Regions from separate parts of the Homo sapiens genome. Here regions 1 and 3 are each reported to be linked to region 2. Evidence: microRNA targets listed by miRTarBase, many of them from high-throughput screens and not tested one by one. Region 2 holds a microRNA gene; each other region holds the end of a gene's coding sequence.
Evidence for each region. Region 2 holds the annotated microRNA hsa-miR-4717-3p (ACACAUGGGUGGCUGUGGCCU, at 1,680-1,700, shown strand). A microRNA usually pairs through its seed, bases 2 to 8, with sites in the 3' UTR of a target mRNA and lowers its output. Matches are read on the target gene's strand: a 7mer-m8 pairs with bases 2 to 8, a 7mer-A1 pairs with bases 2 to 7 and ends in A, and an 8mer does both.

Region 1: miRTarBase lists NACC2 as a target of hsa-miR-4717-3p. Seed matches in the 3' UTR shown: 7mer-m8 at 1,092-1,098.
Region 3: the mRNA of ZBED3 is a reported target of hsa-miR-4717-3p. Seed matches in the 3' UTR shown: 7mer-m8 at 2,241-2,247 and 7mer-m8 at 88-94.

What each region holds. Positions count from the first base shown.
Region 1 is chr9:136,008,645-136,011,796 of GRCh38, forward strand. It overlaps NACC2 (NACC family member 2), which reads right to left. Exons shown (of 6, transcript NM_144653.5): 6 at 1-3,152. The coding sequence ends at 2,872. Among named protein-coding and RNA genes, the nearest start is that of UBAC1, 49 kb to the left of the region's middle.
Region 2 is chr16:2,272,982-2,276,133 of GRCh38, forward strand. It overlaps MIR4717 (microRNA 4717), which reads left to right and starts at 1,639; the gene lies at 1,639-1,710. It overlaps ABCA3 (ATP binding cassette subfamily A member 3), which reads right to left. Exons shown (of 33, transcript NM_001089.3): 33 at 2,900-3,152. It overlaps MIR3677HG (MIR3677 and MIR940 host gene), which reads left to right. Exons shown (of 3, transcript NR_132988.1): 3 at 6-91.
Region 3 is chr5:77,074,525-77,077,656 of GRCh38, forward strand. ZBED3 (zinc finger BED-type containing 3) reads right to left here. Exons shown (of 3, transcript NM_032367.4): 3 at 1-3,132. The coding sequence ends at 2,650. Among named protein-coding and RNA genes, the nearest start is that of SNORA47, 4.5 kb to the right of the region's middle. RefSeq lists a silencer at 2,914-3,132.

The DNA of each region.
Region 1 (3,152 bases), not on the chromosome of region 2:
TGGTTTCCTTGGGAAAAATGATCAAAGGATGCTAAGGCACTCTGGAAGGCCCCTCTGAGCCCGGGCCGCCGCCCCCGCCCCACGGTACATTCAGGACGTGGAGGGAGCACACAGCAGGTCCGCTCAGCAGCCACGCACGTCCACAGACACTCCCGACTCACGCCCACCGTGGGACACATTAGTGCAAAATGCTCGGCCTGGCCCGCCCGGGGCGCAGGGAGAGCTCAGAACCCATTCACATTAAATTATTATTATTTAAGTTTTATCTATAGCTCTTGCCTTCCTTACCCAGAACAAAACAGACGGCGATTACAAACGAGTGAGGAAGGGGCACGGGACATTGTGCGGGCCTGAACAGCAGTCAGGCGTCCTCTGTGCAGCCACCACCTCCGGCAGCAGCCAGCGGCTCCCTCCCTGTCCTGGCCAAGGGTGGGGGGGCACCCACTTTGGAGTGGAGGGCAGAGAGAGCCCTTCTGTCAGCAGCCAGGCCCCCAGGGATGGTCAAATTAAAGTGCAAATTTGGGTGTGGGGCAGATGAAGGAAACTCCAGAGGGAACTCAAGTGCAGCTCAACCTCACCTACCTGCCCCTGCTCCACCCCGCGGCTTCCTCCCATCTCCGAGGAAGGCTTGGTCCAGGTTCCCAGCGGGCCCCATGGGGGCTCCAACCCCACCTGTGCCCAAGACAGGGGAGGAAGAGGCAGAGAAAGGCTCCCTCTAGGCTGGGTGGTTCTTAGTTCAGCAGAAGGTCTGGATGCCTCTGCACCACTGAGCCACCTGCAGCCCTAGGAATGCAGGTCTTGGTCCCCCTGGACGTGGGCCCTGAGGAATGGGTGGAGGGGCCGAGGTTAGCGTCCACAGTGCCTGCCCATGGTCCCCCACCTCCTTCTGGAAAGCAACGTATTTTTCTGGAGGGCAGGCATGTGCTGGGCCTGGCTGGAGGCAGCCCAGGAGGCTGAGTGCTGTCTGTAGAGGCGGCCCCACGGGAGGTCTCCTAGGGCCTCGCCACAGGGGTGGGCTTCGGGGCAGAAAGGAGCCGCCCAGTGGGAATGCGTCTAACCCACACCCTGTAGGTCCCCAGGCCAGGGTGCAGCACATGGTCCTCCCCTAGCGGAGGCGGCCTCCGCTTGATGGGTTGTGGAGGTTGGGGGAGTGGGGTGCGCTGGTCGGCCACCGCTCACTGGCCTGTGTGCACACCGGAGGGGGTGCTGATGGGCGCAGGGCTGCACTTGTTTTGCAAGTGAAGATGGGGAAGCCGAGTTCTGGAGGGACAGAGGTGAGCAACAGACATTTCAAGTCTTGGGATGGGGGGTTCTTCTGGCCACACCTGGGAAGGAGGGCTGCCCCTGGACAAGGACACAGGCCTCCAAAACAAAAGGGAGGGACACCTGGGTAGGTGGCCACACCAGCACTTCACACAGGACTTCACACAGTCTGTGAGCCCTACCACTTAAAAAACAGTAATTAAATTTCAAAGGAAGCACTCCAGCCTCAAACCAAACAGCCCCATCTTCCATGGGCCCTTCCTCCACTGTCCCTGGCCCCCCAACATGATCCCTAACCCTCTGTCCCCTACCAGTGCCCATACCTCCAACTGCCCCAGCCCAGGCCTGTCCCGGTCATCCCCTGCCTGCAGCCTCAGGCACCCTCCATCCATGCACACCCCTCAAGGCAGACGGGGAGCCCAGCACCGGGAGGACCGACTCTCGCCCTGGCCCAGCCCTGGCCGCTGCCTCCTGCCCGAGCGGAGTCCCCCGCTCCCCAGGTCCGGCCCTGAGCTCAGCTTCACACGTACTAGTCGCCCACCCGGGACCCCCTTTTTCCCCCAGTGGGAGACGAGTGGTCCCTGGCCCTGGGCGGGGGAGCAGGGGGACGCACCCTAACGGCCACAGATGACCCACCCCAAGCCATGGTGGGCTGGGGACAGGGACACCCATCCCACCCAAAGTTTTTGTTCTATTGAGTCTGAAAGTTTCCAAACCATATATGAAATAGATCTAAATTACAACAAAACCTAAAAAAAACAAGACAAGCATAATCCCAAAGTGGCTGAGGCGGCAGAGGGCAGCGTGTGCTACATCAGCTGTGCACGTCCCACAGTGGGCCCGGGCGGGACAGTGGGAGGCCAGGCGGGGTCAGCGGTGCCCTGGGGGTCAGGGGACCGAGGGGCTGCAGAGCCGAGACGGATCGGGCAGAACAAGGACAGGGTGTGGGGGCAGAGTAAAGTACCCTTTTCTCCACCCCGAGGGGTGGGCCACAGCCATCACTGCCCCCTCACCACACCCCTGCACACACACGCACACACACACACTCGTGCACACACCCCACACAGGTGGAAGGCCCGGTGGGCCTGGCCCCGAGTCTCCGAAAGAAGGAAAAACGAGGAGTTAGGCCCTGGAGCCTGAGCCCTGCCCCGTCGCCCCAGAGAGGTTCCATGGGGAAGGAAGGAAGGGTCAGTGACGCACAGCCCAGCCCCCTCGCCACAGACCACCGCCGGCCCCTGCTTCGTCTTCCGGGCAGGAGGAGCAGGAAGGGCAGGGAGGAAGGGGCAGGGCTGGGCACCAGGGGCCTGGCGGCCTCCCACCCTCCCCAAGAAGGGGGAGGGAAGCTACACTTGGAGGCTGACCTTGTGAATATCAAAAGGGAGCCCTGGGAACTTCCTCGCAGGAGGCTGCCAGTGGCCTAATTGTTTACAGTATAATGAATGCATTTGTTTCCTTCATCAATTTTAAATACAAGCAGAATAAAAATCACATTTTTCTCAGGCAACAGTAGCAGTTCAGTAGGTAAGTGGCTTGATCACATTTGTTTGTATTAGTAACGCATGCAAGCAGCTCTAGTACTCGGTCCCTCGCGCAGCCACCCAGCTCCGCTTACAAGGTCCCTGCATAGGTGCCCTCCGGCCTCCGGGCCGCGGCCGCCGGCGTCTGGGGCCTGCTGGGGCCGCCCCCGCCCTGCTCAAAGGGCTGTGGGGGGCTCTGGCCATCGGCGGGCAGCGGCTCGGGGGCGGCCACCTCCTGGATGACCGAGCCAGCCCCGTCCACCTCCTCGCCGGCGTCGAAGGCGGGGTTGGCGGCGGCACTCAGGTCAACATTCACGGCGTCAGTTCTCAGAGCCACGATGGTGGCGGCGTCGCCCCGCCGCTCGGCGTAGA
Region 2 (3,152 bases):
TTTAGATGGAGTCTCACTGTAGTCCAGATGGAGTGCAATGGCGTGATCTCGGCTCACTGCAAGCTCCGCCTCCCCGGTTCACGCCATTCTCTTGCCTCAGCCTCCTGAGTAGCTGGGACTACAGGTGCCCGCCACCACACCCGGCTAATTTTTTTGTATTTTTAGTAGAGACGGGGTTTCACCGTGTTAGCCAGGATGGTCTTGATTTTTCGACTTCATGATCCGCCTGCCTCGGCCTCCCAAAGTGCTGGGATTACAGGCGTGAGCCACCATGCCCGGCCAAGCACTTCCTTGAACACAGAGGTGACCATGAGGAGGGAGGCGTGAACCAGGATGACGGGGCAGCAGATGGAGCCTGCCTCCCTGAGACCTCAGGTGACCGAGTGCTGGACTGCCTCCTCCTGCCTACATGGCTGAGAAATAAACTTCTTTTTCAAACCACTGTGACCTGGGGTTTTCTGATACCCTCAGCAAGCCTGTTCCTGTGGCCTGGTGTGGGTCCCCTGACCTGTGGCCTGGGCTGCCTGTATCCGGCCTGCCCCTCTGCTCCGCTGTAAACCTGTGATGGCAGTGGAGGGGCTTGGCCTGGGCCCGCCCCACCGCGAGGTCTTCCCCTCTCCGAGTTCTGGGTGTGGTTTCAGTTGAGCCACGCCGTTGGACTGGGCCGGCCTGGAGGACAGAAGGCACAGGCTCTTCCACATACCTGGCTCGTGGCCCATGGGCCGTCTGCTCACGGGAGCCCTGCACCAGGCCATGCAGAGCAGTGAAGTCAAAACCTCGTTTCCCAGGTCTAAGGTGAACTGGGAGCAGGGCAGGAGTTGGCTCTGTCAGATGCCACAGTTGTTTGGGGACAGTGTCCGTAGAGAATGTGTGGCCCCCCTCCGTGGTCTAGGGTGGAGCGTGGATAGGCCGGTCACTCCTATCCCTGGGCCCAAGGCTCTTTTCCCCTGCCCTCCCGTGGGCTGGGAACTGCCACAGCTCAGACAAAAATCGGCCAGGGCAGGGTCCTGAGGCTTCAGTCCCAGGCTCCTTAGGGCACCCCTGGTGACCCAGCTCCAGCACTGAGTTTCCAGAGGCCTTGAGGATTTCCCTGGGATGCCAGATGGGCCCTTCCTGCTGCTCCTGGGGTCATCTAAGCTCCAGGCTTGGGTGCAGCCCTGGGCCCCTGCCACAGACGCCCTGAATGCACCTGCCCCTCCCGGTCCCCACGCAGCAGCCTCCTGAGCTGCGGATCATTTTCCTAAGAAGGCATTCTACTTGTGCCAGTCCTTACTTAAAGACCCCTGCTGGTGCTGGCAGCGTGCTACCGGGAAGGATGGTATCTCCTGTGCGTGTCCTGTGTACGCTGGCCTCACACGTGTGTGCCTCATGCGGGCTGTGCCCTCAGTCCTATACGCTCTCCCCAACCCTCTTTTAGGGTGTCACAGGAGAAAAATGACACATTCCTAAATCTCTAACACATGGGCTTGAAAACAAGTCTGAGGATGCCCTGCAGAAGGGCCATGGGCATGGACATGGAGCTGGGTGGCCTCGTGCACTGACCTTTCCCTCTTCCTAGCCCCAGGCCCGACCTAGAGGCCACAGCCCCTGCGGACAGGCTGTGGGGCCAGAAGGGCCCACTTCAGAACTTTTCTCGTGGGCAGTGTTTAGGCCACAGCCACCCATGTGTAGGGGTGGCTACACATGGGTGGCTGTGGCCTAAACACTGCCCAAACACGTTATATTTTTTATAACATGGAACTAGATGGCAGAAGTTTAAAGGGAATAAAAGAGCTACTGGAGACGATTTGCAGCTTTCATAAATTTCCAGAGACTGATAAAAACACAGACTTGAAATTGTCCCAAATGAGCCAAAGTGATGAAAACAAGTCTTTTCTAAAACTCTGAATTCTAAGGGAATGTAAAATGCAGAAGTTCAAATCGGGTTTAGAAAACCATAAGAAATAATAGTGCATTCGCCGGGCATGGTGGCTCACGCCTGTGATCCCAGCACTTTGGGAGGCCAAGGCAGGTGGATCACTTGAGGTCAGGGGTTTGGCAGCAGCCTGGCCAACATGAGACCTCGTCTATACTAAAAATAAAATTTAGCCATGCATGGTGGCGCATGCCCTTAGTCCCAGCCACTCCGGAGGCTGGGGTGGGAGGATTGCATGAGCCCAGGTGTTTGAGGCTGCAGTGAGCTGTGATACCACCACTGCACTCCACGCTGGGCAGCAGAGCAAGATCCTGTCTCCAAAAGACAAAACACAAAACAGTGCATAAAAAGGGGCCAGGCACGGTGGCTTATGGCTGTAATCCCAGTACTTTGGGAGTCTGAGGTGGGTGGATCACTTCAGGTCAGGAGTTCGAGACCAGGCTGACCAAGATGGTGAAACCCCGTCTCTACTAAAAACACAAAAATTAGCTGGGTGTGGTGGCGCGTGCCTGTTGTCCCAGCTACTCGGGAGGCAGAGGCAGGAGAATGGCTTGAACCCGGGAGGCAGAAGTTGCAGTGAGCCAAGATTGCGCCACTGCACTCCAGCCTGGGCAACAAAGCAAGACTCCATAAATAACTAAAAAGGGAGCTGATGAGGAGTTATTTCTGGGAAATGGCAAATGCCCACGGGTGACCCTGATGCCAGCAGCTTCTCTCCCACCAGACCTGTGCTTCCCACACAGCCCCACCTGCTCTTGTCTTTAGACTAAGAGCCTGTCACCGGGCGTTGATCTAGCCGGCTTTTTCCTTTGTGTTATGGGCCTGTTCCTTCACCTCAGTGTATTCTCTGCGTGTGCTCCCTTCTGGGAAAAGCAACGTCCCACGTTTGTGTGATTGAAATGTGAAAGGAGAGCCTCATGTCTAGATTGTGGGCGAGTGATTGAGCCCTGTGACCGCTCGCGCGTGTGACCCACAGACTGTGACTGTGTCCCCTCAGCATTTATTTTCTGGATGGTCACAACGTATTCAATGTGTCCTTGAGACAGCCACCCAGCCCTTAGGGTGGTCCCTGCGTGTCCTGGGGCGGGCGACTTCCTGAGGGTGCAGTGCTGGAAACAGAGACTGCTTCGAGCCTGGCCACCTTCCCTCCTGTGCCGGCTGCTTCTAGGAGATGCTGTGGGACGGTGCCCGGCTTCGCGGTGACTACCATGCCCTAAGGAGCAGAGCCTCCAGGATG
Region 3 (3,132 bases), not on the chromosome of region 2:
ACAAAATGGGCATAGTAGCACCTATGTCATAGGGTTGCTTTATGGCAGGTAATTATTCTTGTAAAGCATTTAGCACAGCTCTGATGACACATGGGGAATGCTCAGTAAATATTAATGTCACTAATTCCAGTCAATTCCATTAACTGGAATTAATTAGTTGGAGTTAGGAAGGAAACAGGTGTCAGCTGGGTCGACTGAAGGAAGCAGAGATCTCAGGAAGCAGTACATGGTGGTACAGTGGGAGCATGGCATCTGTGGGGGAGACTGTCTGCAGTGGGATCCCACCTCTATTGCTGGCCAGCTGTGATCTTGTACAGGATACTTAACCCCTTTCTAGCTCAGTTTCTTTAGCTGTAAAGCCAGCGCAATGTTACCATGGAGCTGGTATGTGAAAGCAATGCATGTTAAGTGTGTAGTATGTGCCTGATACATTGTTAGTGCCCAGTAAATGTTAGTTATCAGGTGAGGGGTGGGATGTGGGGTTGAGTAGATTTGCCTCGTCCACTCATAGAGGCAGGATGTGCAAGGAGGGGTGGAGACATGCAGCAAGGGATTGGGCATGAAGGTTTTCTCCAGGCCCGGGGAGAACACTCGGCCTGGAGATATTCAGGAGTCCCTGGCCCAGAGGAGATTACAACTCTGCAGGGATATGAGCCACGAGTGGAGTGTAGACATAGGCCTAAGGAAGCAATCAGACACTTCCAGAATAGAGGACATTTGCTAAGACAGCTGGCCTGGATGCTTCAAAAAGTATCATGGGAAAATATGTTGGGGTTGTTGTAGACTGAAAGTGACTAGAGTTGAAACCAAAAGAATGTATGAACCTTGATGGGACCTGGTTGTTGTCGTTGTTTTTAAAGACAAACATTCTGGAGACAATTGTTGAATACTGATTAAGGGCTCTGTATTAGAGGCTATAAAGAAGTTACTGTTTATATTTTTAGGCATGATCATCTTAATGTAATCATGTAGAACGGTGTCTTTGTGCTCAGGAAATCTATGTGGTAATACTCAGGGGTCGAAATGTCATTCTATGTACACATGCATGGGGTGGAGAGAATAGTAAATCTGGCAAAATGTTAACAACTATTCAATCCAAGTGGAGAGTATGTATCTGAGTATTCATTGTGCTAGCCTTTCAACTTTTTCTGGATGTGTGGAATTTTTCAATATAAAAAAATAAGAAAAAAAAGAGGCCTATGGAAAAACTGGGAACCAGTATGCAACAGGAAAAGGAATTCTTTGAAGGAAAAACAGGATCCACCTACCAAGAGAGCAATTTCAAGGGAGAGATTAAGCAAAATGAAGGCTGCAAATAGATCATCATATTTGGTCACTGGGAGATTGTGGCAGCTTGGAAATAGTCTGGTGAAGCATAGAAAACTGACATGCACCCTAGAACTTAAAGTATTATATATACATATATATATATATATATATATGTATATGTATATATGTATATATATATGTATATATGTATATATATATGTATATATGTATATATATATGTATATATGTATATATATATATAATATATACACACATAAAGAAAAAAAGAAAAGAAAACTGACCCAGAGTGAGGGAGTAAAAACTGGGGAGGAAGGATAGGCAGCCAGGACTTGTTGGCCCTTCTGGGTTAAGTCTTTCTTTTCAGTAAGAAAGGGAGACTGCACATTGCTGAGGAAGAAGAGCCTGGGGGAAAGGGAGGGACTGAGACAGCGAAAGGGGGAATACTACAGGAGGAAAGACCCAGTAAACGTGGGAGAGGAATGGGATGGAAAATGACAGGTAGATGTGGCCTTAAGCGGAGGGATGCTTTCCCCTTCAGCCCAGAGGTGAGCACTATGACGACATGTGGGGAAGAAGCCCTCTTCCTAGTGACAAGGGGATGAGGTGATGTCTTGCTAAGGTGGCAGATGTGAGGCCTGAAAGTGGACATATGTGCCACACTTGTCATTAGGTCTGAAGCAAGGGAAGGATGGCCGAGGGGAGACAGAGTGCACCTGGTATTGGTTGAATAATATGGGCAGTAAAAAAGCGGGCTCTGGGACTGCCCCGATGAGGGCTAGAGATGATGCGGGTCTACAGCAGTCATGGAAACTAGAGGGGACGTCCCTCACCCACCCTTCAGAACTTGGTGTTGGGCAGATTATGCATTAGGAACTCTTTTTTTTTTTTTTTTGGGTAAAAAGCTTTCTCATTTCCACGCACCCTCCACCTTGGGCTGCTGGGTGTATAGGCACATGGTGTGATAAGTCTTTGGTATGGAATGAAGCTCTATCCTTTCAAAGTCACCAGGTTCGGGTTCCCAGCCCTAAGTGGCCATGGCACTGGGTGGTCTGGGTTCACGGGGCTCCTGGAGCTCTCGGGTGTCCCGTGTGCCACCCCAATTCCTTGCGTGCATGCCCACGAAAGGCCGCCCAGGCACCCCCGGTGACCCCATGGAAGTGAGTTTTGGTTCTGCTCTGGCTTCGAAGTGCTTCTCAAGCTGAAGCCTTAGGGTGTGGAAGATCCTACAGTTAGCTGGAGCTTCCGAGTGAGTAGCGGCTGCGGGCCTGGCTTCGGTTACGGCTTCGGTCCCAGCGGGGTCTGAAGGCATTGGCATTGGACGGAGAAGCGCTGTCCTGGGGTGGGGAAGTGGCCACACCCCTACAGGAGGACCTTTGTGATGACGCAGCCGTCCCTGTCACCCTCGGGGTCGTCCTTGAGCGGCGGCGGCGCAGCGGGGGCCCAGCCCAGGGCGCCCTCACGGCGGCTCACATCCCGCAGCCGCGCCTGCAGCGCCTCCCGCTCGGCCTGCAGTTCCCGGCGCGCCTGGGCCGCGGCGCGCTCTTCCTCCTGCAGCGCCCTCCGCCTCCGCTCCAGGGCGCGCTCGCCCTGCTCCACGGCCAGCTCGCGCCGCTCCAGCTCCCGCTCCCGCCGGCTGCCGCGCACGGCCAGCGCGCCCATCTGTTCCAGCAGGCGCGCCCAGTCGCCCTCGGGGGCCGCAGCGGGGCCGGGCGGCGGCGGGCAGGGCGCGGCAGGTGGGGAGCTCCCGGCGCCGCTGCTCTCCAGCTCCCGCCGGTGCGCGCTCCTCAGGTGCCTCCACAACGCCGAGGTCCCCGCGTGGAAGCCCGGGCCGCGGCCCACCTG